Homo sapiens: one gene and its partners. The protein of the gene in region 2 purifies or fractionates together with the protein of the main gene of each other region. This does not show direct contact. Each region holds a gene or a part of one and is shown on either strand. Other genes may lie near its edges.

The links.
Region 1: the proteins of MTHFD1 (region 2) and ALDH1B1 fractionate together in Homo sapiens (co-fractionation; one large-scale study listed by BioGRID). This does not show direct contact.
Region 3: the proteins of MTHFD1 (region 2) and PC fractionate together in Homo sapiens (co-fractionation; one large-scale study listed by BioGRID). This does not show direct contact.
Region 4: the proteins of MTHFD1 (region 2) and XPNPEP1 fractionate together in Homo sapiens (co-fractionation; one large-scale study listed by BioGRID). This does not show direct contact.
Region 5: the proteins of MTHFD1 (region 2) and MCCC2 fractionate together in Homo sapiens (co-fractionation; one large-scale study listed by BioGRID). This does not show direct contact.
Region 6: the proteins of MTHFD1 (region 2) and CDH2 fractionate together in Homo sapiens (co-fractionation; one large-scale study listed by BioGRID). This does not show direct contact.
Region 7: the proteins of MTHFD1 (region 2) and MTHFR purify together in Homo sapiens (co-immunoprecipitation; one study listed by IntAct). This does not show direct contact.

What each region holds. Positions count from the first base shown.
Region 1 is NC_000009.12:38,395,359-38,399,435, reverse strand, and holds the end of ALDH1B1 (aldehyde dehydrogenase X, mitochondrial precursor), read right to left. Parts: intron 3,697-4,077; coding exon of another isoform or gene 3,688-3,696; coding exon 2,134-3,687; 3' UTR 775-2,133; downstream 1-774. UniProt on the Homo sapiens protein: ALDHs play a major role in the detoxification of alcohol-derived acetaldehyde. They are involved in the metabolism of corticosteroids, biogenic amines, neurotransmitters, and lipid peroxidation.
Region 2 is NC_000014.9:64,457,003-64,460,706, forward strand, and holds the end of MTHFD1 (C-1-tetrahydrofolate synthase, cytoplasmic), read left to right. Parts: intron 1-1,211; coding exon 1,212-1,301; 3' UTR 1,302-1,305; intron 1,306-2,756; coding exon of another isoform or gene 2,757-2,933; 3' UTR 2,934-3,023; downstream 3,024-3,704. UniProt on the Homo sapiens protein: Trifunctional enzyme that catalyzes the interconversion of three forms of one-carbon-substituted tetrahydrofolate: (6R)-5,10-methylene-5,6,7,8-tetrahydrofolate, 5,10-methenyltetrahydrofolate and (6S)-10-formyltetrahydrofolate.
Region 3 is NC_000011.10:66,871,384-66,875,500, reverse strand, and holds part of PC (pyruvate carboxylase, mitochondrial precursor), read left to right. Parts: intron 1-3,341; coding exon 3,342-3,477; intron 3,478-3,629; coding exon 3,630-3,814; intron 3,815-4,020; coding exon 4,021-4,117. UniProt on the Homo sapiens protein: Pyruvate carboxylase catalyzes a 2-step reaction, involving the ATP-dependent carboxylation of the covalently attached biotin in the first step and the transfer of the carboxyl group to pyruvate in the second.
Region 4 is NC_000010.11:109,881,524-109,885,640, reverse strand, and holds part of XPNPEP1 (xaa-Pro aminopeptidase 1), read left to right. Parts: intron 1-1,492; coding exon 1,493-1,574; intron 1,575-2,998; coding exon 2,999-3,209; intron 3,210-4,117. UniProt on the Homo sapiens protein: Metalloaminopeptidase that catalyzes the removal of a penultimate prolyl residue from the N-termini of peptides, such as Arg-Pro-Pro. Contributes to the degradation of bradykinin.
Region 5 is NC_000005.10:71,585,712-71,590,344, reverse strand, and holds the start of MCCC2 (methylcrotonoyl-CoA carboxylase beta chain, mitochondrial isoform 1 precursor), read right to left. Parts: upstream 3,006-4,633; 5' UTR 2,920-3,005; coding exon 2,791-2,919; intron 1-2,790. UniProt on the Homo sapiens protein: Carboxyltransferase subunit of the 3-methylcrotonyl-CoA carboxylase, an enzyme that catalyzes the conversion of 3-methylcrotonyl-CoA to 3-methylglutaconyl-CoA, a critical step for leucine and isovaleric acid catabolism.
Region 6 is NC_000018.10:28,166,674-28,170,790, reverse strand, and holds part of CDH2 (cadherin-2 isoform 1 preproprotein), read left to right. Parts: intron 1-4,117. UniProt on the Homo sapiens protein: Calcium-dependent cell adhesion protein; preferentially mediates homotypic cell-cell adhesion by dimerization with a CDH2 chain from another cell. Cadherins may thus contribute to the sorting of heterogeneous cell types.
Region 7 is NC_000001.11:11,791,901-11,796,017, reverse strand, and holds part of MTHFR (methylenetetrahydrofolate reductase (NADPH)), read left to right. Parts: intron 1-669; coding exon 670-920; intron 921-1,154; coding exon 1,155-1,289; intron 1,290-1,479; coding exon 1,480-1,660; intron 1,661-1,928; coding exon 1,929-2,111; intron 2,112-3,638; coding exon 3,639-3,740; intron 3,741-4,117. UniProt on the Homo sapiens protein: Catalyzes the conversion of 5,10-methylenetetrahydrofolate to 5-methyltetrahydrofolate, a cosubstrate for homocysteine remethylation to methionine. Represents a key regulatory connection between the folate and methionine cycles.

The DNA of each region.
Region 1 (4,077 bases), on a different chromosome or scaffold from region 2:
GGATGTTTAAGAGTTGACTGGGGCCAGGCATGGTGGCTCATGCCTGTAATTCCAGCACTTTGGGAGGCCGTGGCAGGAGGGTTGCTTGAGACCAGGAGTTTGAGACAAGCCTGGGAAACATGGTGAAACCTCATCTCTACAAAAAATACCAAAAAAAAAAAAAAAATTAGCCAGGCATGGTGGTGAGTGCCTGTAGTCCCAGCTACTTGGGAGGCTCAGGTGGGAGGATTGCTTGAGCCTGGGAAGCAGAGATGAGTGGGGTGTGCATTTACAGGAATGGGGGGACTTGAACGTAAGGTGGCTTGTAAGCAGCATGGTCTAGAAAGATGGACCGAGAGAGGGAGGCTCAGCATTCTGCTTCTGTATTGTGGCCTGGCTGGCTTGGATTTGCCTTCACTCCCATCAGTTGGGGAATGAATGTAGCAAGACTAACAATAAACATTATGAACTCTGAGGTTTGAAACTCTGGAAATCCCCAGCATGTCAAGGTGGCCCCCATGCTAGGCTTGGCTTGAAGGGTGGGTATGGTTTGGAAGGGGTGGGGGGCTGTGGAAACGAGTCCAACAAGATGGGCCCATTCTGAGCAGGAACCAGAGTTTTTCTCTACGGGTCTTACAGTTGCACTTTGTCACCCATCCAAGAGAAAACAAAAACAGAAACATTGGGGAGGGGACTTTTGCACCTGACTGGGGGTTGACTAGACCACCTGGGTCCCTTCCATCCCCCACACTCTATAAAATGTTCAGCAGCAGGACAATATGGAGACAAAATGGATTTGCTCACAGAATGTATACGTTTATTTTTTAACGGAGTTAATTCATGGCCGGGTGTTGTGGCTCCCACCTGTAATCCCAGCACTTTGGGAGGCTGAGGCGGGTGGATCACCTGAGGTCAGGAGTTCAAGATCAGCCTGGCCAAAATGGTGAAACCTCATCTCTACTAAAAATACAAAAATTAGCCAGGTGTGATGGCATGTACCTATAATCCCAGCTACTCAGGAGGCTGAGACAGGAGAATCGCTTGAATCTGGGAGGCGGAGGTTGCAGTGAGACGAGATCACACCACTGCACTCCAGCCTGGGCGACAGAGTGAGACTCCGTGTCAAAAAAAAAAAAAAAAAAGAAAAAAAGAAAGAAATTAATTCATATACCATAATTAAACAATTCCATAGTTTTTAGTATTTTTACCAAATCATGCAACCATTACTATTGTTCAACTCCAGAACATTTTCAAAACCTCCCAAAAACAAATCCCATGCCCACTAACAATTACTCCTCTATCCCCTGGCAACCACTAATCTATGTTCCATCTCCATGGATTTGCCTAGTATGTATATTTCATATAAATGGAATCATACAGTCTGTAGCCTTGTACATCTCTCTGGCTTGTTTCACTGAGAAGGATGTTTTCAGGGTTCACTGATGTCACAGCATGTGTCAGTACTTCATTCCTTTTTATGGCTGAGTAATCCAAGGAATATTCCATGGAAACATTTTATTAATCCACTCATCAGTTGACGGACATTTGGGATGTTTGGGCTTACTTTACAGGTGTAATCATGTAAGCATATTCTTTGCCTACTCCTTCCCACAAATTAAGGAAAATCAGTAGCAAAATGAAGGGCAAGCAACTAAAACAGCCAGCAACTGGCACACAGACAAGGAAAAGCACCTCTGGTTTTTAGGTTAAGCCAATGAAGAGTGGGGCCGAGATTTAGTATCCACCTAGTTCAAAACCCCTAACACTTTCCAAGCTTGTGTTCTGAGTTGAGTCGATCCACTAAACCATCAAGCGCACCCATGGGAAAGTCCTTGGATCAGCAGGAAGAGCTACAAATTACAGATCACTGGTTTTTAATCTGTCCTCCAGAGACTCCTAAGATTTCATGGAAGCAACTCATGGGCCACCAAGGGGGCTGTGGTTGGGGGTTAGATAGGTAGAACTCTGAGCCTGGTCCCCATCTCTGATTTAAATAGAACAGCCTTGATTGAATTGCTTTATTTGTGGGGTTTCTTCTAAGAGTTAATTTGGAACAAAGAAAGGGTGTTCTTGGCTTTAAAACAGCTTGGCAAGCATTCGTCAAGGTGGTTGTGGAATTGCTGGACTGTGACTGGGCCTCCCTGACAGCTGCTCTTACGAGTTCTTCTGAGGAACCTTGATGGTGACCGTCTTTACCTCTGTGTAGGCCTTAAGCCCATCCTCACCCAGCTCCCTCCCGTTTCCAGATTCCTTAAACCCTCCAAATGGCGTGTGGCAGGTGACGATGTTGTAGGTGTTTACCCACACGGTCCCGGCCTGGAGTGCCTGGGTGAAGTACATGGCCTTGTCCAGATCCCGGGTGAACACAGCCGCAGCCAGGCCATACCTGGTGTTGTTGGCCCTCTCAACCACCTCCTCAATCTTCTTGAACTTGAACAGGGGCTGCACAGGCCCAAAGATCTCCTCTTTGGCAATTCTCATGTCATCCTGCACGCCACCAAAGACAGTAGGCTTGATGAAGAAACCACGCTCCCCGAAACGCTCTCCGCCACAGAGGAGTTTTGCGCCCTCCTTCTGGCCAAGCTGGATGTAGCCTAGGACTCGTTCAAACTGCTCCTTGTCCACCTGAGGCCCCTGCTGGGTGTCCAGCTCAAAGGGGTTCCCCACTTTCCTCTGCTTTGCTTTCTCCACGGTTCTCTCGAGAAACTCATTGTAGATGGATTCTTCCACGAAGGTCCGGGAGCCAGCACAGCAGCACTGGCCCATGTTGAAGAACAGGGCTTCGTGGCACTGCTCCACGGCATGCTCCATGTCAGCATCGGCCAGCACGATGCTGGGGCTCTTACCACCCAGCTCCAGGGTGACTCTCTTGAGGTTGGAATCGCCAGCTGCTTTCTGGATCAGGTGGCCCACCTCGGTGGAACCGGTGAAGGCAACTTTGTCAACATCCACGTGCTGGGCGATGGCCGCACCTGCTGTTGGGCCATACCCCGTGATGATGTTCACCACCCCAGGGGGAAAGCCTGCCTCCTTGATGAGGGAGGCCAAATACAGGGCAGAGAGGGGGGTCTGCTCTGCCACCTTCATAACCACAGTGTTGCCTGTGGCGAGTGCCGGGGCAAGTTTCCAACCCTGCATGACCAAGGGGAAGTTCCACGGGATGATCTGGCCACAGACACCAACGGGCTCATGCCGGGTGAAGCAGAAATGCTGGCCATCCATGGGGATGGTCTTGCCATGCCACTTGTCAGCCCAGCCAGCAAAGTACCGATACACCTTGATGACCTCATCCAAGTCCAAGGCGTAAGACTCTTGGAAAGGCTTCCCATTGTCCAAGGTCTCGAGTGAGGCCAAGTAGACTCGATCCCGCTCCACTAGGTCTGCCAGGCGGTTCAGCAGCCGGCCCCGCTCAGAGGCATCCATCCGGCGCCATGGGGACCCCAGGCGGAAGGCTTCCCGGGCTGCTTTCACGGCCCGATCCACATCAGCCCGGTCACCTTCAGCCACGTGCCCAATGACCTCCCCGGTGGTAGGGTTGACCGTCGGGAAGGTCTTCTTGCTGACTGCATCTTGCCATTCATTGTTGATGAACAGCTGGTTGTAGGGGATGTCTGGGTTCAGAATGGGGCTTGGGAGGGCTGCTGCCGAGGAGTAGCGGGCGGTCCTGCCCTGGAGGCTAAGCAGCCGGGGTGCCAGGAAGCGCAGCATGCTGACACTCTGGAGAGGGACAAAAGAAACCAGGGTGAACAGGTGGGAGAAGGCAGGTGGCGGTACCCAAGGGCCCACCAGCTCAAACATTTCAAGATTCCAGCATAAAGGACTGTCACCTCTAAAAACACAGACTGTAAGAGCTGTGAGGGCCCTGATGAACTCTCTGGGCCAACTCCATCACGTCCCGCCTATCCTCAGCTCACTCCCTCACCTCTGCTGGGTCTCAAAAGCCACTGTCTCAGCAAGGCCTTCCCTGACCACCCTTTAAAAAATTGCAACCCTTCCCACCCCAACACTCTCTATCCCCGCTACCCTGCTTTACTCCTTCTCTATCTCACATCCCAAATACTATCTTTACAGGCTTATATGTTTGTCTGTCTCCCCCCA
Region 2 (3,704 bases):
CATCTAAGTAGAAATTTGTCAAAGCCGAGTCTTTAGAAAAGTAGTGAGTACAAATATAATTTGTAAGCATTACAAGTTTAGTTTTAGAAGGCCATTTTGGGCCAGTAAGAATGGTGATTATAAAACCATCTAGATTATGTACAAAAGTGTCTTGGCCCAAGTTAAAGGATACTAACTCCTACCATCGTGTTGCTGAAGCAAAAATCACATGGGCAGCTCAGCTAGCAAGACTGAACGAAACAAAATTTAAAAGCAGGCAAGCCCTGTACCTCCTTTTGGTCTTGCAAAGCGTGAGCTGAGGAGGCGAGTGAGCAACTCCTCTACTCCCCAGCACTCATTCTTGTAAGGTGAAGGTGGAAACACCTCCTGCTACTGCTTGTGACCACATGGAAGATGATAGTGAAGGCTGGCATTTGGTTTGCAGAAGGACATGAGGAATCAGTTTCTTTTCTTTTCCTTTTTTTTTTTTTTGAGATGGAGTCTTGCTCTGTCACCCAGGCTGGAGTGCAGTGGCAAGATCTCGGCTCACTGCAACCTCCGCCTCCCAGGTTCAAGCGATTCTCCTGCCTCAGCCTCCCAAGTAGCTGGGATTACAGGCACACGCCACCATGCCCAGCTAATTTTTGTATTTTTAGTAGAGATGGGGTTTCACCATGTTGGTCAGGCTGGTCTCAAATTCCTGACCTCAGGTGATCCATCTGCCTTGGCCTCCCAGAGTGCTAGGATTATAGGCATGAGCCACCACGCCCGGCAGGGATCAGTTTCTGAGTTTTTTAACAGGATCAGTGACTTGATTTTTAATATGTAACAAGAGTACCCACTTTATTGACAACTATAAAATGATGTTCTATCTTTATGCCTTGGGCTTTCTTTCTGAAGGAAAAGTGAAAGTAAAGATGACTTTACGTTTATTTTAGACATGGCCTTGCTCTGTCGCCCAGGCAATCGGATGATCATGGCTCACTGTGGCCTCAACCTCCTAGCCTCAAGCAATCCTCCTGCCTTAGCATCCCAAGTAGCTGGAACTACAGGCACATGCCATCATATCCAGCTAATTTTTTATTTCCTGTAGAGATGGGGGTCTCACTATGTTGCCCAGGGTGGTTTAGAACTCCTGGCCTCAAGTGATCCTCTCCACCTCAGCCTGGGATTATAGGCGTGAGCCACTGTGCCCAGCATTAGTTTATTTGTAATGCTTTTTTACATCCTAGATGAGCACAATGCCTGGACTCCCCACCCGGCCCTGTTTTTATGATATTGATTTGGACCCTGAAACAGAACAGGTGAATGGATTATTCTAAACAGGTAAGTTGTTACTGGGTAATAATTTGGCTTTTTTCCTCATGTAGCTTATTTATGAATTATAGGGCTCAAACTGACGCTATAAAAATTCACATTCTAATGCTTTCAAAACATTTCTTTTCAGACTTCCCTGAGGGGAGAGGGGATAGTAATGAGAGTTGGCAATAACCAATGAATTGAAATATTTATATTTCAACACATTTTTGGAAGAAGCGCAGCATGGCTTGTCACAGGTTGACAGTGTAGGGGAGAAAACTGCTGTCCAATAAACTACAGAGGAAACTACAGGAGAGGTTAGACTCCCTCTGCTGAAGCCCCAGGAGGCTTGGGGTTCAGAGTTGATGACACATTGCAGGTCAGGAACAGCTGACGGTCTGTATACTCTGAATAGGTAGTTAGAAGGCAAGAATTAGCAAATGTCTTAGGAAGTATAATAGAAAAGAGAAGGAAACAGGACCAATCTGGCAGTTCTTAGGGCCTTAGGTGAAAGGGCCCTGAGTACCGACTGCAATGAGTGACATTGCATTGTTTGATATTTTTGAAATTTCAACAGGACGTGTCTCTCCTTAGGCAGACCCTTGGGGCTGAAGCAGCAAGTTGCAGTGTGCACTTATATCCCTAGACACATCCTGTTGAAACTGCAAAAATATCAAACATGAAAATCCTAACATCTTTCTCCAGAGACGAAAAAAGTGGCTTGCCTATGAAAAGAATGAGAACTAGACTTAACGCCCGTCTTACTGGCAATAAGAAGCTTTTAGACAATGGAGGAGTGTCCTGTAAGGTCACAGGGAAGATGACTTTCAACATGTGCTCACACCTAGCCGAATCTATCTGGATATTTTCAGACGTGCAAGGGTTTGCCACCCCACATCTCTTCCTAAGAAGTTATTTAGCAATGTACTTAGCAAAATGAGGAATTAACCAAGAAAAAAGGAAGACGTGAGTTTTGGGAAACTGAACCCTCATTTGGACATTAGCGAAGGGGCATTCTGATAACCATGCAAATGACCTGAAGTTACAAATCCTGTGTGGAACAGGTTGGGGGAGCACCTGAGAAAAACTAGAAAAAGCTAGAAAAGACAAGGATATCAAAGGGTCATAGTATAAAACAAAAGCTCTTGCATTATTTGAGAAAGTTAAGGTCCAAGTAGAAGCAAACTGTAGTTTGATGCTAGAACACTATTCTTTGAGAGGGTATGTGTGATACTCGAAATGCAGTCATGGCTCACGGCTTGGTCTGGTCTTGAACAGTATTCACACAGTACTATGGAAATACCATGCATCATTTTCAAGTCCATTTATGGACACGCCCTAGAAGAGCTGGTGGCAGGAAAGGATGTAAATGTTAACAGCTTTGGCAATGTGAGTGGGTAATGGTGCAGTATGGAAGGAACAGGAAACATTTCAGTGCTTGCTTAGAGAAAACATTTATTTCTTGTTTTTCCTTCCAGATCACCATCCATCTTCAAGAAGCTACTTTGAAAGTCTGGCCAGTGTCTATTCAGGCCCACTGGGAGTTAGGAAGTATAAGTAAGCCAAGAGAAGTCAGCCCCTGCCCAGAAGATCTGAAACTAATAGTAGGAGTTTCCCCAGAAGTCATTTTCAGCCTTAATTCTCATCATGTATAAATTAACATAAATCATGCATGTCTGTTTACTTTAGTGACGTTCCACAGAATAAAAGGAAACAAGTTTGCCATCTTGGTGTTGCAATATGAATTACAGCCTTAACAGACTGTGCCACAGGTCTCTGCCATCCTTTGTGAGCTCATTTGTCAGGCAGACCCTTGGGCTGAAGATGCAAGTTGCAGTGTGCCCTTTATGATACTGTTGTGTTTAGAGGGAAATGTATGCATGCTTGTGTATTTCTGAGAGGACACATAATTCAGGGGACCTCCTGAGAGGGTTGGGTTGGAAGTTGATGACTTACCTTTTAATCTTATACCTTTCTATATTGTTGAATTTTGTTTTTCTACCCTGAGGAAGTATTGCTTATACAAGTTTTTGCCTGAACTTCCTTGGAATTCCCATTTCTGTCACAGCTTTAGCACTGTCTATGTTTAGAGTGCTCAAGAAGGATGGTCATGCAGCATTAGCCTTAGGTGAGCCTCTATTCTGTTGGTGCAGCAAGTATTCATTGAGTTTCTTCTAAATGCCTGGGCTCCACCCTTCCCTACAGACTTTTTATTTTTATTTTTATTTTTTTGAGACAGTGTCTCTGTCGCCCAGGCTGGAGTGCAGTGGCGCGATCTCAGCTCACTGCAACCTCCGTCTCCTGGGTTCAAGTGATTCTCCTGCCTCAGCCTCCCAAGTAGCTGGGATTATAGGCATGAGCCACCATACCTGGCCCAGACTTTCTTTTTCCTAAAACATTAGGTTGGTAAAAACCACAATTACTTT
Region 3 (4,117 bases), on a different chromosome or scaffold from region 2:
CTCCCAGGCTGTTCTCTCCCTGGCTTCAGACACCACCGCCCCTGTGATGCTGCCCAGGTTCTTGTCCCTGCTCTTCCCCCTCTGTGAGCTTGCCTCACTCCCAGCCCTGCCTTTTCTGTCTTGCCCTTCTTATAGCAGGAAAAGTCATCTCCACCCACCCATACAGGATTTCTTCCTCTACCTTGCTTTCTATGGGGGGTCTCTCGACGAATCTTGTCTGTCATAGCCCAGATGTTTCCTAAGCCCCACCCCGACCCCCATAGCTTCCCCCTGTCAGAGGCTCCGCGTCTCTCAGCTCAGCCTCTGAATTGCCCCAGACATGCGTCGTCTGTCAGCCCCTGCTGCTCGCCAGTCCAGAGAGATCCTTTCCACTGTGCATCGATCATGTCCCTCCTGTCCTGTCCATGGCTGAAGGGAGGCCTCAACCACTGGGCCCTGTCTGTGGCTGCAGCCCCACCTCAGGCCGTGGGCTCACACTTCCCTCTCTCAGGACAGCACCAAGCCTGTTCTTCCTGAGAACTTCACAATTGCTATCCCTTCTTCCTGGAGCTTTCTCTGCGGATCTGTGCGTGGCCGACTTCTCCCCATCCAGGTCCCAGCTTCTGTGTCCCCTCCTCAGAGAGGCCTTTTCTAATATCCAGCCCCCAAACCCCTGCACCCGCCCCAGATCATTCGCAAAATGTCACCTGTTTCTTATCTTCCAGGCACTTGTGATCTGAAATGTTCTGATTTGTGTCTTGTTTTTCTTTTCTTTGCTCCTTTCACTGCCATTCATCTTCCATGAGCAGAACCCTTCACTGTTGTGTTCTCGACTCCTAAGGCTTAGAACTGTGCCTGGCATAAGGTCTGCCCCTAGTGGGGTTTTCTGTTTTTCTCCCCTGGCTGTGGGTCTTTCCTCCTCCTCCTCTTCTCTTTCTTCTACTTATTTCCTTGTTTCTTCTCTTTTCTTTTTCTTCTGTCTTTATTTCCCCTTTTCTAGGTTGTTGGCTGTAATATGGCACTAAGGTTTTTGCAATATTTGTTTCATTTCTTGAGTATGTTTTTATGTTCCTTACTTAAAACAAAATGGCTGAGTCAAGTGTTTTAAACGTTTTCTAAGAAATGAATCAGATCGGCCGGGTGTGGTGGCTCACACCTGTAATGCTAGCACTTTGTGAGGCCGAGGCGGGTAGACCACTTGAGGTCAGGAGTTCAAGACCAGCCTGGCCAACATGGTGAAACCCCATCTTTATTTAAAATACAGCCAGGCGTGGTGGTTCACACCTGTAATCCCAGCACTTTGGGAGGCCAAGGCAGGTGGATCGCCTGAGGTCAGGAGGTCGAGGCCAGCCTGGCCAAGATGGTGAAACCCTGTCTCTACTAAAAATACAAAAATTAGCTGGGCGTGGTGGCGGGTGCCTGTAATTCCAGCTACTCGGGAGGCTGAGGCAGGAGAATCACTCGAACCCAGGAGGCGGAGGTTGCAGTGAGCCGAGATCGCACCATTGCGCTCCAGCCTGGGTGACAGAGCAAGACTCTGTCTCAAAAAAAAAAAGAAAAAAGAAAAGAAACAAAACAAAAACAAAATTAGCCAGGCATGGTGGTGCATGCCTATAATCCCAGCTACTTGGGAGGCTGAGGCAGGAGAATTGCCTGAACCTGGGAGGCAGAGGTTACAGTGAGCAGAGATCATGCCATTGCACTCCAGCCTGGGCAACAAGAGCGAGACTCCGTCTCAAAAGAAAGAAATGAATCAGATGGTTAGATGAGGCCCAGATGCAGGGGTGAAAAGAGTGTGTCTGGTTTGGCTTGGGCTCTGTGCTGGGCAGCTGTCTTTTTAGTCTCCACTGTACCTTGGTTTCCTTCATTTTACAAATGAAGGGCTGGCCAACCTCTGAAGCCTCTTTGCATTCAGGGATATAAGTTGTCGTCAGTTGATTTAAATATATATATAATATTATATAATATTATAATATTATATATAATATATATTATAATATATAATATAATATATAATATTATATAATATATATAATATTATATATTATATTATATATAATATATATTTTATATATAATATAATATATAATATATATAATATATTATATATATTTATATTATATTATATATAATATTTTATATTTTATATATAATATATTATATATAATATATATATATTTTTTAAAGATGGAGTCTTGCTGTGTCACCCAGACTGGTACAGTGGTGCCATCTCAGCTCACTGCAACCTCCACCTCCCAGGCTCAAGTGATTCTCATGCCTCACCCTCCCAAGTAGCTGGGATTACAGGCATGTGCCACCATGCCTGGCTAAGTTTTATATTTTCTGTAGAGACAGGGTTTCACCATGTTGCCCAGGTGGGTTTCAAACTCTTGAGCTCACACAAATGTGCCTTGGCCTCCCAAAGTGCTGGGTTTACAGGTGTGAGCCACCGTGCCCAACCTGAAGTATTATACTTTTTTTTTTTCCTGGGACAGAGTCTTGATGTCACCCAGGCTGAGGGCAGTGGCGCAATCTCAGCTCACTGCAACCTCTGTCTTCTAGGTTCAAGCGATTCTCGTGCCTCAGCCTCCTGAGTAGCTAGAATTACAGGCGTGTGCCACCATGCCCGGCTAATTTTTATATTTTTAGTAAGAGGCGGGGTTTCACCATGTTGGCCAGGCTGGTCTCGAACTCCTGATGTAAGGTGCTCCTCCCACTTCAGCCTCCCAAAGTGCTGGGATTACAGGCATGAGCCACCGCGCCCAACCTGATACTTTTATTTTTTTTGAGACGGAGTCTTGCCCTGTCGCCCAGGCTGGAGTACAGTGGCACGATCTCGGCTCGCTGCAAGCTCTGCCTCCTGGGTTCATGCCATTCTCCTGCCTCAGCCTCCCAAGTAGCTGGGACTACAGATGCCCGCCACCACGCCCGGCTAATTTTTTTTTTTTTGTATTTTTAGTAGAGACGGGGTTTCACCGTGTTAGCCAGGGTGGGCCAACCTGATACTTTTAAAAGTTATAGTGCATATTATGCTGGGTACGGCAGCTCACACCTGTAGTCTTAACTACTCAGGAGGCTGAGGTGGGAGGATCATTTGCGACCAGCCTAGGCAACATAGGGAGACCCTGTCTCTACAACAATAAAGTCACAGTTAGGATATCAGGCTGAGCTGGGGGTTCCATTTGGGGTTGGATTTGCTCCCTTCTCTAGAGCCAGGAAATGTTGGGCTTGGCCAGGCATCAGGAGGTAGATGGTGCTAGCCTTTCTGTGGGGCCACTGTGGGGTTGGGAAGGGCCCTCACTCATTCTGAGGAGCCTCAGTGCTGAGGCTGCGCTAACCTGGGCTCTAACTTCCCTCCCTAGATGCTGAAGTTCCGAACAGTCCATGGGGGCCTGAGGCTCCTGGGAATCCGCCGAACCTCCACCGCCCCCGCTGCCTCCCCAAATGTCCGGCGCCTGGAGTATAAGCCCATCAAGAAAGTCATGGTGGCCAACAGAGGTGAGCACCAGTGGGGCCGGTGAGAGGAGCCTCATGGCCGCCCCAGCCTTGGCATTCTTCTCCCACTCACTGCCCCAGGCCCTGGCTTCCCACTCCCCTTTCTGCTTCTCCTAGGACCTAGGAATCTAACTTCTTGTTTCTTTGCCCTCTAGGTGAGATTGCCATCCGTGTGTTCCGGGCCTGCACGGAGCTGGGCATCCGCACCGTAGCCATCTACTCTGAGCAGGACACGGGCCAGATGCACCGGCAGAAAGCAGATGAAGCCTATCTCATCGGCCGCGGCCTGGCCCCCGTGCAGGCCTACCTGCACATCCCAGACATCATCAAGGTGGCCAAGGTGAGCCCAGTGGCCTGGCTGGGCCTGGACAGCAGGGACCAGGGAGTCTTAGTTGCCGCGGGGGTCTCTTGAGGCTGGCGTGCTCAGCGCCTCTGTGCGTGGGTGGGTAAACGGATGCAGCTCAGCAGGTTAGGCAGGGGAAGAGGCTGGCCGAGGCCTTGGAAGGGACTGCAAGGTACCGTCCTCTCCCTGACCCCCACCTGCAGGAGAACAACGTAGATGCAGTGCACCCTGGCTACGGGTTCCTCTCTGAGCGAGCGGACTTCGCCCAGGCCTGCCAGGATGCAGGGGTCCGGTTTATTG
Region 4 (4,117 bases), on a different chromosome or scaffold from region 2:
AGGCACTGCTTTATCTTTTTGCCTTCTCACTAGAGAATGAGACCCTACTGCAGTGTCCTCTCTCTTCAGTCCCTGCATCTTCCATCCACAAAACATTGTCAAGTGTGTCAGTGACTTACATCCCTAATTAACTTAATGATCTCAACGTCAGAGAAAAACACCTGTAAAACTTTTCTCTCTCCCTGATTGTAACAAAAACACAATCCCATGATAGAAAACTTGGAAAATGCAGAGGAAGTAAAAAGAAGAAAAAAAAAATCACGTATAAATTCTGTTACTTAGAGATAATCAGTGTCAATATTCTATGCATATATCATTTTATAGCCTGATTTTTTCACTGTATCAGTACACTATAAGCATATACAAGCATAATTTTAAGTGAGTATTAAATACTCCATCATGTGGTTATACCATAATTTATTTAACTGTTTCCCTAAGGATGACCTTTGGGTTATTTGCAGTAATCCTGTAATTTATTATGATGCTACCATCAAAATCTTGGTTCATGAATCCATGTCTTAGTGTTTGATAATTTTCTTCCTATTTCTGGTTGGCTTTTAGGGCTTTTGACTCATCTTGCCCTTTGTCTGCCAGAAAGTTTGCACCTTTGTATTTGAATTTGTCTGTCTTGCCACACCTGAACACCAGGTACTGTCATTTTTAAAGAAGTGCTAGTATGATAGGTAAAAAATGGTGCCTCATCACTTTAAGAAGCCATTATTTTAAAATAGAGGTTATACTTTTAATGCCCAGGCGTTTTTTTGCTCTGATCCTCATGAGAACAAGTGACGGAAGCTGGAAGTCCTGGGACCAGAACTGTGCTCTCTCCTGGTCTGTCTAGTTCTCAGACGTTCAGCAACATCACTGTTACTGGCTGTCCGCAGGTCCCCCACCCAGTCGTGGTGCCAGAGCAGACCCATGGGTGGGCTGCAGGCTCTGATTTCATTGGTGAGCTGCAGCCTTGCTGACTCACTGCTTTTCTTTCCACCTCTGACAGGAAGCTCCGTCTCCATGGGGCTCACTGACCCTTACAGAGGAGGCTTGCCTGGCTTCCCTTGTGGGAGGGTCTCAGTTTTTCTACCCTAGGTCATCTGCCTCAGAAGGGAGAGAGTGCTCGTCTCCTTCCTTTTTATTTGGGAGCGCCAGAGGTTTGTCGGCTTCAAGGCCAGGCCTGGCAGGTCACCACTAGGCGGATCATTTCAACTCCTTGTGGGGGCAGTTCTCAGGATTTCAACTAATAGCTTTTATTCCCTTCTCCGGGCAGTGATGTGGAAGCCTGAGAAACAGCTCTGGTGCCATCACGTGGTGGACATGAGCAATTGCAGCTCAGAGGTGGAACCAGACGGGAGTCAGGCTTCCAGCCTTTCTGTGCGATTCCACTGAATCCTTGCGCAGCAGCTGGACTCCAAGCTGAAGCTCTTCCCTCCCGCTACAAGCGACCCCTTAACATCTTAAGTCAGACAGGTGACAGGGATTTTGATTTCTTTTCTAGGGCTATTTAATCTCCGAGGATCAGATGTGGAGCACAATCCAGTATTTTTCTCCTACGCAATCATAGGACTAGAGACGATCATGTGAGTGTTTGCCCTGCATCTGGAACTCCCTTCCAGAGCTCCTCAGAGCCCTAGTGTGCCCTTTCTGGTCCTGGCCCACCCATCACTGCCTGATATTTCACTGATGTGCTTCTTTTTTCTTGCCCTTTTAACATTTTCCCTTCTTGTTTTCCTTAGCAGTAGGTGTTTATTTATATCCTGCCTCTCTTTGAGCCCCCAAAATGGTTTGAAACGCATGAAAGTGTCTATAGTTCGGGCCACCCATTTGATGTCAAGTTTTCTAGCAGCCAGTGTTAAGGGGTATATATGCTCAATTATACAATTCTGGGTCCACAATGCAAATAAACCCAGTCATTTTGAAGGTCAAAAATAATATGGGAAAACCCCTCCAACTACGCTTTGTTGAATTGTCAGTTTATTTTTTCAAAGCATTTCGTGTGGCCTTCTTTTCATTACTGTTCTATTTCAATAGCTTTTTGCATTAAGACAACACATTTATTAAGTGCTGGTGATGTGCTAAGGGTCTCTGTTAGGTGCTAGGGTGACTGAAACAGGACGGGGTCCTTGGCTGGAGTTGGGGAGATGAGCATGTCCTCTTTCTAAAGTATTTGGGCACATAAGTGGGCACCAGTCTGCTTGTGGGACAGATACAGGTGTTACGAGAGGGGCCTGACCTAGACTTGGAGATCAGAGCAGACTCTTGGGGAAAGTAATATTTTGAAGCAGAGAGTAAGGATAAATGTGGGTGAGTTAGGTGAATGGCAGGGTGAGGAGGGGCGGGGAACCATGATCCAAGCAGAGGGAACAGCATTTTCAGAGACTCTGGACAGTAGAGAGCACAGTGCATGTGGAGGACCTGAAGTGGTTCAGTGAGGTCAGAACATAGTGAGGCCAGAATGTGAGCAGGGGCCACAGAAAAGAGAGGCCTTGTGGGCCACATTCAGGAGCTTGGGTTCTTTTTCTGAACAAGAATAGTGGGAAGCTATTGAACGAATTTTTCAGAGGGAACCACATGTTAGATGTACAAGTTGTAAAGAATATTATGACTGAAACATCGGTAGATGGGGAAAGACTTAGAGGCTGTGGCACTAACCCAAGTGAGAGATGGTGGGACCTGAACCTGAGTGGTGACTGGGCGAGGCTGTAGATGAGCTGGACAGATTAGATGGAGATTTAGGCTGTGGGTCCCAAGGTCTTAATGAAGGACGGGAAGAGGGTCATCAGTGAAGGAGGACACTGCCCAGATTTCTGGCTTGGCAGATTGGGTGGATGGGGGCAGGGAATGCACCTTGGAGGGCAGGATTTGGGAAAGGAGTGGGGAGGAGAGAAAAGGGGCTTGGTTTTGGTTGCCAGGAAACAGAGCCTGATGTGTATGTGTGTCTGTGTTGCCACCTCTCACTCATGTTCCCTCCTTTTTCTGCCACCCACCTCTCCTCCATCTGCAGGCTCTTCATTGATGGTGACCGCATAGACGCCCCCAGTGTGAAGGAGCACCTGCTTCTTGACTTGGGTCTGGAAGCCGAATACAGGATCCAGGTGCATCCCTACAAGTCCATCCTGAGCGAGCTCAAGGCCCTGTGTGCTGACCTCTCCCCAAGGGAGAAGGTGTGGGTCAGTGACAAGGCCAGCTATGCTGTGAGCGAGACCATCCCCAAGGTTGGTGACCCCACTTTGGCCCATCTAAACTCTGCCACCCCCTTCCCAGTTCTGGTATTGTCTTTGGAGCACAGGCAGATTTCTGAGGCTGCCTGTTGGATCAGAACTGTGGTCTCCATGGATGAGGCCTTAAAGCTGGAGCCATAGCAAGAGCCTGAGGGCCCTTATTGCTTGTTGAGTCTTGTGTTTTCCAGAGTGTGGCATGAGAGATTATTTTAGGTGGTACACATTATTATTTAGGTTTGCTTAAATATATCTGTTTTAACAGCATTTAGCATATAATAGAAAAAACATAACTAGCATGAGTTCATGATATAATTATTTAAAATAAAGTTGAATTTAATAAAGCTGATTTAAAGATGGTCTAAAGTAAAGTACTAAGTGAATAAGGGTACAGCAGTTAAGAAGCTAGGGTAAAAGCTGTGCAGGTGGTATAAGAATGCTTGAAGCTTGGGAAATGCTTCTCTACCCCCTCCTTCTGCCGCACCACATTTTATAGCTAAGGACACTTGAGGCTCAGAGAGGATTGGGGAGTTGGGGATTTGGGGATTTGTCAAATTCAAGTGATAGTGATAGCCTTGCCCTTTACTGAGCCCTTGCTGGGCAGTGCTAAGCAGCTGACACTTGTTGCCTCATTTTCATTAGGGTCTGGGATGGGACTGGAATCCAGGCCTCTTTAGAGGTAGGCTTTTCTACTGTCCTCCCCTGGGCCTCTGGCTGCCAAGTGGCCTTTGGCAAGCCCAGTGATGTCCTTTCTTCTCCACTGAGCAGTGGGGCATCCTGGGAAGAATCCAGGCCTGGCTCTCTAGATCTGGCTTGCCATTGTACCCCTGCCATCATCACACACAGTGTGACTCCTCCTCTCTCTCTCTCCTCTCTCTCTGGAGAGAAAGAGAAAAGGAGATAAG
Region 5 (4,633 bases), on a different chromosome or scaffold from region 2:
GCCCATCAGACTTAAATCACAGAAGAGCCAGTACTGGCTACAGTTCACCTCCCAGGCAATCCTTTATCAACCAACCTAGCCTCCTTAGGATGAGACTCACTAACCAAGAGGCAGTGTAGTTTAGTGGCAAAACCAAGTTCAACTTTCAGTTTCCCTACTTACTGATACTGCATTTGGCAAATCTTGATCTCTCAGGACGCCAGGTGTTTGTGTTTGTGTGTGTGTGTGTGTGTGTTTTAATCACCTGCGAAACAACATTCTACAACCTAGTAATTTTCTTGTGAAGCTGAGCAACCACAGAGGTTAGTGCCTGACAGTCATAATGAATTGGAGCTGAGCCACTGACAAGTTTCCCACCCCATCTTTTCAACCATAGAACCCACCTAGGTAGAGCTGGGTGAGTGAGAAGCATTATAGAGCAACAGTTAAGACCCTGGACTCAAGAGTTATGAGCCAGACCACCTGGCTTCAAATTCAGGCTCTGTGTTATCTCAGACAAATTTCTTGGACCCTATATACCACAGTTTTCCCATCTATAAAACAGAAATAACAATTGTACCTACTGCACAGGATCATTATGATAAATACATGAGTAAAACCACATAAAGCCTTTAGAAAAATGGTGGGTACACTATAAAATTCCTGCCATTATTATTACTTATTATAGTTGCTTTTATTTGTAATCAGGAAACACAGCTAAACTGGATCATTCATCCCATTCTCCCCCACCCTCATGGACTTGCTTTGTCTAATGTGAGCACACATTAATTTCATCACATGCCAGCAAGGATTTTAAATCCAATTTGTGTTCAGCCTCTTGCTCCTGTGCCTTCGGCCATGAGAAGGGCATGTTTAATTCAGGGCTGCTCTTCAGCCTCAGTCCAGGAATGGGAAGACACATGGAGCAGACCTGAACCTACCCTGCAGTGGAACAGTCACAGCAGCAGCTAACCAAAGGCCACCAACACGAGTGAGAGATTAAGAAACAAAACAAAATCAAGTGAGAGACTAATATTTACTGTTGTGAGTTACTGAGATTTTTTGATTATTTGTTACACAAAGCGCAACCTAGCAAAAGGTGATTCATACAAAACCCATCACCAAAGCCTTCTTTGTATTAATGGCAGTTCCACCTAACTAAATATTCTGCCCAGTTGGAAACTCCAAAGTCATCCATTTTCCCCTTCCACTCAGTTATTAACTCTATAATCTTTGCTCCTCAGGTATTTATGCCCCCCTCCTACATACAACTCTAACTTTGACTCCTTCATCTCAAGACTCAACTCTCCACTGTCACCTAGGTCTAGTCTTTTCCCTATATCAATCCATCCTCCACATTGCCACCACACTGATGATTCTACCATATCCATAGGATCATGCCACTTATCTACTTAAATATTTTAATGGACAACCTGCCAAATGGAATCTAAATGTGGCTTTTGCATGGAAGATCCTCCTCTATCTGGCCCCATAATCAATCAATCCCATCACCAGACACTATTCAATGAATTCCATGTCCTAGACATGGAATTCAAGTCCTCACACCAGATATACACTTTCATAACTCAGTACCTATGTTCTTGTAACTCTCTTGGTTTATACAGTCTTACCTTCCATCCTGCACCCTGAACTTGGCCAGCTCTTACCCAAGATTCATCTCACCCATTACTTCCTATCGGTAGCTTTCTGTAACCACCTTCTCAAGCTTTAGACAACCCTTCTTACACTGTACCACAGTTACCTGCTTTCTTGTCCATCTTCCCTACAAAATTATTAGTTCCATTCCTACGCATCCATGCCAAATATCTAAAATAGTGCCTAGACCACAATAACCACTTAATAATTCTGAATTAAACATTCTGGACTGACAAACAATTGTGTGTTGTTTGCACTATTTAGATGTTATCTGTATAGGCTTAGAAATCGTGGGAACACAGTGAAATTTTCCAGCTCTGATATTTCGCAAGTTTTGAGTTTTTTGGCCTTATGATGCCTCCTAATTCCAAGAAAAGCCACTCAAAGATACTGTGGGATATTTTCTATTAACATAACCAACTTTTTTTTTTTTTTTTTTTTGAGACAGAGTTCGCTCTTGTTGCCAAGGCTGGAGTGCAATGGCACGATCTCAGCTCACTGCAACCTCCGCCTCCCAAGTTCAAGCGATTCCCCTGCCTCAGCCTCCCAGGTAGCTGGGATTACAGGCGCGCGCCACCATGCCCGGCTAATTTTTGTATTCTTAGTAGAGATGGGGTTTCACCACGTTGGCCAGGCTGTTCTCGAACTCCTGATCTCAGGTAATCCACCCGCCAGGGCCTCCCAAAGCGCTGGGATTACAGGCGTGAGCCACTGGGCTCGGCCATCATAATCAACTTTTAAACTCAAATTTCCTAAGCACAGCGCCCCTCGTTGGGCTGCTCTAGGCCAGTGGTTCCCAAAGCTGGCTGCCAAAAGTCCCCTAATGAGTTCACTAACAATATAAACACAGCGACTCCACCTGAGACCCACAAGGTCCAGAGTAGGGCTCAGGCAGCTATTCAGCTAGCTCCCCAGGTGGCAATTCTAAACCAGGCTTTAAGAACCACTGATTTCAAAGACACAAAGTACAGTGCCAGCTCTAAAAGTGAACTAAACTTTCTTGTATCTGTTAGGCTTTTCTTCTTCAAACTTCACGTGCGTCACAGAATCAACTGGGGCTCCGGACAAGAGAGCAGCAGTTGTTGAAGCGTGCCCCTCCTCCACTTGCTTCCTAGCCTGGCACCGGCGGCCAGGCCACCGGGGCGCTCAGCCTACCTGGTAGAGGGCAGAGCCCAAGTCCGGCTGGGTGCCCAGCGAGGCCACCGAGTCCCCGTGATAGGCGCGCGGCCCGGCGGGAGAGGCGCGGGCACACGGCCGCAGGGCTAACCTCAGGACGGCCCACATGGCGGCGGGCACCGAGCGAGAGAGCGGCCCACGCTGGCCTGGAGCCGGTGCTTTCCCCTGCCGCTTCCCTGGCTGGGGCGGAAGCTGAGCTCAGGTCCTTGCAGCCCCAGAGAAGGTTTCTCTGATTCTCAGGCCTGTCCACACACGTGCCTAAGCGCGCCGCCCGCGATTGGTCAAGCCGCGCCACGCCCCCTGACCCAGCCAATAAGGGACAGAGCCTCAGCCCCGCGAGGTCGCGTCTAGTCCCGAGCGCAGGAGAGCAGGTCTCCCCGGCGGATCGACCCTCACGAAGCGGTGCGGCAGTGAGAGAGCTGCGGTTGGGCTTGGATTGGTGTTGTGTTGACACAGCGATAGATAATATCACGATAGTGACTGTACCTAAGGCAGGAGAATAAGTCTGGAAGCAGGGAACCTAAGGCTGTCTCACGCTGACTTCCTAGAGCTAAACTGAAAGGAAAACCCTAACTTTCCATGCCTAAGTAACAAAAGGACCAAAGGCTACTCCCTTTGCAAACCCCCCCACCTTTTCCGCAGGGCAGATAGGAAATTGGCTGTCCCCGACAAATCAGACTTACTGCTGGTGGAGGCTTGCTTTGCCAAGTTTGAACCTTAACTCCAGCCTCTGAATGGTTGCTGTCCACAACCAATCAGACTGATTGGGGGTCCAGTCTTCGTTTGCATAGAAGTATAACTTTGTAATTTCACCCTAGCCTCTGACTGCTTGCTTCTTGCAACCAATCGGGTTTGAGGTGAGCATAAAATGGCCAATAGGAAACTTCTAGTGGGTATTTGGACCCAAGAAGATTCTATATCCGGGCCCTTGAGCTCTGCTCGGTCCGCTCCCACATTGTGGAGTGCACTTTCGTTTTCGGTAAATCCCTGCTTTCGTTCTTTCGTTGCCTTGTTCTTTCTTTGCTTTGCTGGGCGTTTTGTCCAATTCTTTGTTCACAATGCCAAGAACCTGGACAACTTGCAGTCACAACCCCCAGTGACACACCAACAACATGAGTGAATCGCATCTAACACGTGCTTGCGAACAGCACAACAAGCCTGTTGTCCTTTCACTGGAGACCTTAAACATTCTTCTGATTATTTTCGCTATGTAGTTATTTTTATTTTTTACTTTATTTCATTTTTTGAGACAGGGCCTCACTCTGTCGCCCAGGCTGCAATGCAGTGGCACGATCACAGCTCGCTGAATCCTTGACCTCCCACCTCAGCCTTTCCAGTAGCTGAGACTACAGGTTTGTGCCACCAAGCCCGGCTAATTTTTTATTTTTGTAGGGGTTTCACCATGTTGGCTATGCTGGTCTTGAACTCCTGGACTCAAGCGATCTGCCCGCCACAGCCTCCCAAAGTGCTGGGATTACAGACATGAGCCACCACACCAGGCACTATGTAGTGACAGATTGTGGACATCAGCACTGTGGTCTTAAATAAAGGACTCCAAATATACCCATAAAAATTAAAACATTCTATACAAAATGCCTTGAACTTAAGGTTTTTCATTCACATATTTATTGAGCACTTACTACTTCTACTCCATTGGTTGCTTAGTGGGGCAGAGTAAAGGGGGAGGATGGGGTAGAGAAAGGGTGCGTCTACACCTGGAGGTAAACTTAGGTTCAGACTTCAAGGTACTTATAAGAAAATAATACAAATGGCCACATGATTTCTTACTGAACTGTGTAGGACAGACATTAAAGGAACAGAA
Region 6 (4,117 bases), on a different chromosome or scaffold from region 2:
TAAGAAATTATGGCATAATGTTAAGCTAAATTTAATAACCCCTGCTGTAGGGAACAAAACATTTTCTACTAGTTCAGGTTCAAGAAAGCGATTGTTAAGCCACCTCATGTTTTGGGAATAGTCATGAACCTAAAAAAGCTACAGAGGGCCAGGCATGGTGGCTGATGCCTGTAATCCCAGCACTTTGGGAGGCCAAGGCAGGTGGATCACGAGGTTAGGAGATCAAGACCATCCTGCCTAACACGGTGAAACCCTGTCTCTACTAAAAATACAAAAAATTAGCTGGGCATGATGGTAGGCACCCGTAATCTTAGGTGCTTGGAAGGCTGAGGCAGGAGAATCACTTGAACCCGGGAGGCGGAGGTTGCAGTGAGCCGAGATCATGCCACTGCACTCCAGCCTGGGCAACAGAGCGAGACTCCACCTCAAAATAAAATTTAAAAAAGCTACAGAGAAGGACAACCAAAATAAATGAGGATTTCAGGCTTCTGAATGAGGATTAATTTGACACAGACCACAATATAAGCTATAACTGAGAAATATACAATCAAACAGTAGATTTAAGAATGAAGATAACCTAAACTAACACTAGGACAATCCAAGTTAGGTTTAGAACAACCTATAGCAGCCTGAGCTATAAGTAGATCCAAAGGAAGATTGGCTGAATTAATGGATAGCTAAATAATGGATACGTTTCCATGCTGACATCATGGAATAACCACTTTATGCTGAGTTCTCAGTGCCTGAGAGATTATAATAGTTGGGTAAACCATGGTAATATTTCACATTCTCCTGACTGATTGAATGTTTAACTTTTCATCTGTTCTAATAGTGGAAGTGTAATTGAAAGTGGACCTTACTAGTATGTGGAACTGGAGATACAGAAGAACATTTAGTATATGAATGAGAGTTCTAGTGTACCCACTGCCTTGATTAAGTAAGCAGTTTAACTTGGGTTTTTCAAAGTAGCATTGGGAGAATTAGTTGTATAGTGCTTTAAAGCAGCTTGAGCTATTTAAAAAGAGTTGCTATTATACATATGGTATGGGAATTATAATGCAGAGATGTTTGATCCATGATCTGTTCTTAGATTTTCTTTCATAAAATATACCTAGCTATAATTTAAAAATTAGATAGTGTACTTACCTACTCCCATATATTGTAGTTTTAATTTTAATACTGATTTTTGTGTAATTAAAAACATTAATTGGCCATTATAATTTAAAACATGTATGCCCAGATTTTCTTTCCATTCTGATATGTTACTTAATGTTTGGGTGGATTAAATAATTAGTTTTAAAAAGTAAATTAAAAGGTGCATAGTTTGGAGTTTTTATTATTCCAGAAATCACTGGCACTAAAAATGTAAAATGACTCTTTTCTCCCTTCATTACTAAAATACACTTTGAGTTTTCTTAACTTTCTTCTGTTGCACTAAATATTGGATTTTGATGTTACTGCTTTCGTTAAAGGTTGTAAGGATTGCCCTTTTAGTTTTTTCCCACATCTGCAGTTTTAAGACATTCCTCAATTTATTTTATATTTGGTAATTGTCAGTACGTCATTCACAGAACTCAGTAGAGCAGATACAGCAGAGAAAACCCTTGAAACTAGGTATTTGCTGCTGCCTCTTTAAAGAGTTTTTCAAGCCAATGTCTGTTAGTATTAAACCTCAGAAATTAAGTATTTTTAATTTCAGGGAAGGAAACTATTATGTTTCAGTTCATTGTTTCTGTAACTCTATGAGATAGGTGGTTTTGCTCTCATTTTAGAGATGGTAAAACTGGAACTCAAACATTCTGAATATGAGAATCCAGAATAAAACCATATTTGTCATATTCAAGTTGGGCTTGACTACAAAGCATACGGGTTTCTCCCTTTATCAGACTGCAGCCCTTTTTGTATAATACCCAGAGAATGACTGTCACAATAAAGAAGAGTTTCAGTTTCTCTCTACTTAGTTGATTTTTTTTTCTTTAAATAATTAACTTTTGAATTACACTCTCTGTTTAATCTTGGCCTTAAATATTTTGCTTTCTTTTGGCATCTGAAGCCAAAACATAATGCTTGGTTAAGATTTTCATTCTTTTTTCCTGTGGTCTTTAGGAGAGAAAAAACATTTTAGAAGCATTCATAATCAGTTTTTAAAAGTTCTTCTAATAGTTTTGATCAACAAATAATATGCTGGTAAGTACTCAAAAATAATTTTTTTTAATGAATCTTGGAACTTAAAATACTTTCTGAAAGCCTATAAACTCTCAGGCCACAAGACCACACATTTTTTTTGAAACTCTTTTTTCCATATTCTTCAGGGTGAAAGTAAATGCAAGATATTCCACCACCAATTTTTGAAAAGTTTTAATGTTTAATGTTCAAACATTTTCCATATTTGAACACTTTGCATTACTTTTTCGCACACTAATAATGTTATTTGGCATATTTTAATATACATGTCCACATCTTGAAATGACCCACTGCAGACAAGTTCCGGTGAATATTCTGTAGTGTAACTGAGTACAGATACTGATTTGTTTGCTGCTGGGAAAAACCTAGAACTATTTTACTTGTAACTTGACCTGTTGTTGGTGGGTGGATACACTTGGCTTGACTGTAATCTTGCACGAAATGTCTTGTTTGTTGGTTGGGAAACTATTAAGTGGAATCTGAAATAAAGGACTAAAAAAAATTACATTTACTAAATTGAAAGGGGATGTAATCCCCCCGCTCCCGCTTAACATAAATCTTTAATAAACTCGAAACTGTGACCACTTTGTTATTATTTTTCCTTTTGTTGTCTTAATTGGTTAACACAGACATTCAAAGTCTGAAGTTCATTCTTTATGGCTCTCGGGTTGAGTAAATAAAGAAAAGTCTGTTTTTGCAGCGAAAATATTGGCCTTTGGCACCCACTCTCTTGCTAAAGTCTATTTGGTGTCAACACCTTTACGATTGAGTTCTAATATCCTGCTACCTGATATGATATTTTAGGGAACTCAAAATTCAGATTATGTACATATAATACACACATATACATTTACTTTATGGAAGTGTCAAATGCATACAGGAAAATATACATAGAAGTGGACAGCCTGCTAAATGTTCCTAAATGGAACATACTAGTTAATCAGCACTGAATCAAGACAGAGTTTTACCAGTACCTCCTTCCAATTTTAACCGTCCCTCAGTGGTAACTATTTATTTGACTTCCAACAGCATGATTTTTTTGCTCATTTATACTTTGTGAAACCATATTCTCTTTTGTGTCTGGCATCTTCCACTCAGTACGCAGAATCTTTCTTATATTTATATCATATGTATTTGTAATTGTCACAAAATTAGGAAAGACGGACACTATAGAAATATATTGGAGGTAAGGAGGGTGAAGTTGGTTTAAAATGGAAAGATTAATCATTTTTTGCAGCTAAAGGCCACTCGCACATTTATGGTGTCAAGCCACTAAATACCTTTTGTGGGTTTTCTTACAATATCTTTTGCCATAGTTCTGGTAGTTTGGCAATATCACTTCAGCCAAATGCCAAATACATTTGGAATTCTGTTAAGTTATAGTCTCTCTTGTCCTTCCTTTTATTAGAACGAGAGTGGAGACAAAGAACTAAATATCTTTCTGACCTGAAGTTTTTAATCAGAAGATTTAGGTGTTAACAGACTCTAATCTTTTCAGCGATGCTTCTTAATACCTTCTCTGAGCTTACTAGTGACCCAGTTTTCAACAAGGCTTTACCCAGTTTTTTGTTTTTAATTTTGGAAAGGGTACATTGAGGGGTTTCTACTTCCACACACTGTGTGTATCCGGGTACCATTTACCTTTTTTTATATTTGTATATCTTTTTTAAAGATCTGAGAGTCTGCCAGGAGGGATGCAGATTGTCCACATTTGTCCCAGCATCTTTCTTTCTGGAGGCCTTTTCTGTTTATAATGGTTTAGTAGCTCTAGATTGTTGGTAGAGGCTTCCATGCATAATGATGAAGACTTAAGGAATCAAATTCCATAGGTAATTGCCCACCAAGGATTTGTTGGCTTCAAAGCTTCTCTAATTTATTTATCTTCTTACACTTGTGGATTTAATTTTACCATATTTTAAAGATTGTGCTTTTG
Region 7 (4,117 bases), on a different chromosome or scaffold from region 2:
CCCAGCAACAGTGTCTGTTGAGGGGTTTGTTGTACTTTGGCCAACAAGCATCACCAAAAGGGATTCTAATTCTCATTACAAATCCTGCTTAAATCAGTGTTTCCCAAAGGTGGCTGTCATCAGAACCACTTGATAAGCTTTTTCAAAAAGTGGATCTCCAGGTCCCACCCCTGGAGGTTCTCACTCAGTAAATCTGAGGGAGGTCCTCGGAATGTGTGTTTTACTTCTTGAGCTTGGCAGGTGATTCGGATGATCAGTGCAGCATGGGAACAGCTGGGTTAGATGACACCATGTTACCAACAGACACATCTAGGGCTAAAAGGCTGGCTCAACCCAAGGCTGGAATGCTTAGGGCAGCTGCTCTACTCTGTAAAAAGTGGGAAAGCTGGGCATAGTGGCACGTGCCTGTAGTCCCGGCTACTTGAGAAGCTGAGGCAGGAGGATGGCTTGAGCCCTGGCGTTTGAGAGCAGTGAGACTCAGTCTCTAAAAACAGAAAAAAGAGGAGAAAACGGCAGGCCAAGCCCAGGTGTGCTCCTAGAATATGATCGGACTTTCGTGGGTCCCTCTGCCTGACACTGTGGTTGGCATGGATGATGGAAGGGGGAGAAGTATTTAGGGTGGGAGACGGGCTGGCCAGCAGCCGCCACAGCCCCTCATGTCTTGGACAGGGCTACCACTCCCTTCGGCAGCTTGTGAAGCTGTCCAAGCTGGAGGTGCCACAGGAGATCAAGGACGTGATTGAGCCAATCAAAGACAACGATGCTGCCATCCGCAACTATGGCATCGAGCTGGCCGTGAGCCTGTGCCAGGAGCTTCTGGCCAGTGGCTTGGTGCCAGGCCTCCACTTCTACACCCTCAACCGCGAGATGGCTACCACAGAGGTGCTGAAGCGCCTGGGGATGTGGACTGAGGACCCCAGGTGAGGGCAGTGGCCCAGAGATCCCCAGAGGAGGGTCCAAGAGCAGCCCCGGCTGCAGTGCTGGCTCCCCACGGTGGTACAGATGGATGTCTGTGCCATGGCTAGCTGGGCACATCGAAGGCTCCAGTCTCAGAGGGCATCAGATGGAAGAACTCAGCCTCAGGGGTGCTCCCCTGCTTCCGGCTCCCTCTAGCCAATCCCTTGTCTCAATTCTCTGTCCCCATCCTCACCCAGGCGTCCCCTACCCTGGGCTCTCAGCGCCCACCCCAAGCGCCGAGAGGAAGATGTACGTCCCATCTTCTGGGCCTCCAGACCAAAGAGTTACATCTACCGTACCCAGGAGTGGGACGAGTTCCCTAACGGCCGCTGGTGAGGGCCTGCAGACCTTCCTTGCAAATACATCTTTGTTCTTGGGAGCGGGAGGGCAGAAGAAGTTTGCATGCTTGTGGTTGACCTGGGAGGAGTCAGGGGCAGAATTTACAGGAATGGCCTCCTGGGCATGTGGTGGCACTGCCCTCTGTCAGGAGTGTGCCCTGACCTCTGGGCACCCCTCTGCCAGGGGCAATTCCTCTTCCCCTGCCTTTGGGGAGCTGAAGGACTACTACCTCTTCTACCTGAAGAGCAAGTCCCCCAAGGAGGAGCTGCTGAAGATGTGGGGGGAGGAGCTGACCAGTGAAGAAAGTGTCTTTGAAGTCTTCGTTCTTTACCTCTCGGGAGAACCAAACCGGAATGGTCACAAAGTGAGTGATGCTGGAGTGGGGACCCTGGTTCATCCCCTGCCCCTGGCCTGACCCCAGCTGCAGGCCAGGCTGCGGGGCTGTGACTTCCCCATCCTGTGCCCTCCCCTCCATGCTGTGGACATGGCAAAGGGAGAAGGGTAAGTTGGGAGACCTCCACCTGGAAGGGCTTAGGGAGGCAAAGACAGGCTGGGTCTTTGTTGGGGGCCGTGAGAGGGACTCAGGGTGCCAAACCTGATGGTCGCCCCAGCCAGCTCACCGTCTCTCCCAGGTGACTTGCCTGCCCTGGAACGATGAGCCCCTGGCGGCTGAGACCAGCCTGCTGAAGGAGGAGCTGCTGCGGGTGAACCGCCAGGGCATCCTCACCATCAACTCACAGCCCAACATCAACGGGAAGCCGTCCTCCGACCCCATCGTGGGCTGGGGCCCCAGCGGGGGCTATGTCTTCCAGAAGGTGTGGTAGGGAGGCACGGGGTGCCCCCCTCTCTTGACCGGCACCCGTGGGTTCCCCAGAGCTTAGGGCAGAGCAGCCTGCCTCTCCTGGGCTCTTAAATTTTGAATGAGCATGGATTGGAGCGGATGGGAGCTCATGCTTTAAGTCAGATAGACCTGGCTGGGCACGGAACCCGGCCAGCACTTTGGGAGGCCAAGGCGGGTGGATCACTTGAGCCCAGGAGTTCGAGACCAGCCTGGGCAACATGGTGAAACCCATTCTCTACAAAAAATACAAAAATGACCGAGGCATGGTGGTGTACACCTGTAGTCCCAGGTACTTAGGGGGCTGGGGTGAGAGGATCGCTTGAGTCCGAGAGGTTGAGCCTCCAGTAAGCCATATTTGTGCCTCTGCACTCCAGCCTGGCCCACAAAGTGAGACCCTGTCTCAAAAAAAAAAAAAAAAAAAAAAAAAAAAGATTGGCTGGGCTTGGTGGCTCATGCCTGTAATCCCAGCACTTTAGGAGGCCAAGGTGGGCAGATCACAAGGTCAGGAGTTCGAGACCAGCCTGACAAACATGATGAAACCCCATCTCTACTAAAAATACAACAATTAGCCGGGTGTGGTGGCGGGCACCTGTAGTTGCAGCTACTTGGGAGGCTGAGGCAGGAGAATCGCTTGAACCCGGGAGACGGAGGTTGCAGTGAGCTGAGATCATGCCACTGCACTCCAGCCTGGGCAACAGAGCAAGACTCCATCTCAAAAAAAAAAAAAAAAAGATAGAAATCAGACCTATGGAGGCAGGTCACTCGACCTCTCTGAGCCTGGTTTTCTCGTCTGTAAAATGGGATGTAGCTTGTGTTCTGGGCATGAAACCTAACAAAGCATGTAACGTGCTTGGCACATGGTAAGAGCAGGAAGCACTCCCTGAAAGGCAGCTGCTGTTACTATCCTGAGTTGACACCTTTCTCCCAGGGCTGCTGGAGTTAACATTATGTTCTGATCTAAGGCCCACAGGCCCTGGAGCAGAAAGACCTGAGTTTAAGGACCAGCTCTACTGTTTACTGTCAGAGTAGCCAACGTGCTCAACTTCCCTGAACCCACTTTCCTCACGTGGGGCTCACTGTGCCCAGCCTCCCGTATTATCAGCATTCTAGCAAATGAGTTTGAGTAAACCCAGCTTAATCCCTGATAGGCACTGGTTCTAGAGGAGATGTCAATGTCATTGTCAGCTTGCACTGGGGAGGATGGAATGTGTGGGGCCTCTCTCCCATGACTCGGCCTGTCAAACCAGTTGCTGCTGTTCAGAAATGGCTTCTTCGTGGAGTCTTCCCTGACTGATTGGGAGAGGGGTGGCTGATAGCCCTCAGACCTGTCCAGACTGAGAAACTCACGTCCCCACTCCCCTCACCCTTTGCTTATGGACGTGCCAACGCCACAGTTCATTATTCCGCCCACATGGCTGCCAGTAGTCCTGATACCTTAGGTGTCTGCGAAAGGGCGTCTGGCAGGGCTGGGGTTGGTGACAGGCACCTGTCTCTCCCACAGGCCTACTTAGAGTTTTTCACTTCCCGCGAGACAGCGGAAGCACTTCTGCAAGTGCTGAAGAAGTACGAGCTCCGGGTTAATTACCACCTTGTCAATGTGAAGGTAGGCCAGGCCCCAGGGTTCCCACAGAGTACCAGGCCCTTCGTTGAGCAAACACCCAGCACCTAGCCTGGGCTAGGCATTGTGCAAGACAGAGAGATACAGGCAGAACTGGGGCCCTGCTCTTAAGGAGCTCCCAGCCTAGAGTGAGGGAGGCAGATCAATGTGTGACCACCAGCCAGTGTAAGTGGGAAAATCAAGTTCAGGAGAGGATGCTGTCGGGTCCAGAGGAGGGATATCTCACCTGGGAGGCCAGGGAAGGCTTCTCAGAGGGTCATCTGTGGGAATCACTGAGGACAAAGAGGAGTTGGCCAACAGGAGAGAAGGGTATTCCTGGGACAGGGCAGAGGACAGGCAGAGGCAGTGAGCTGCACCATCTG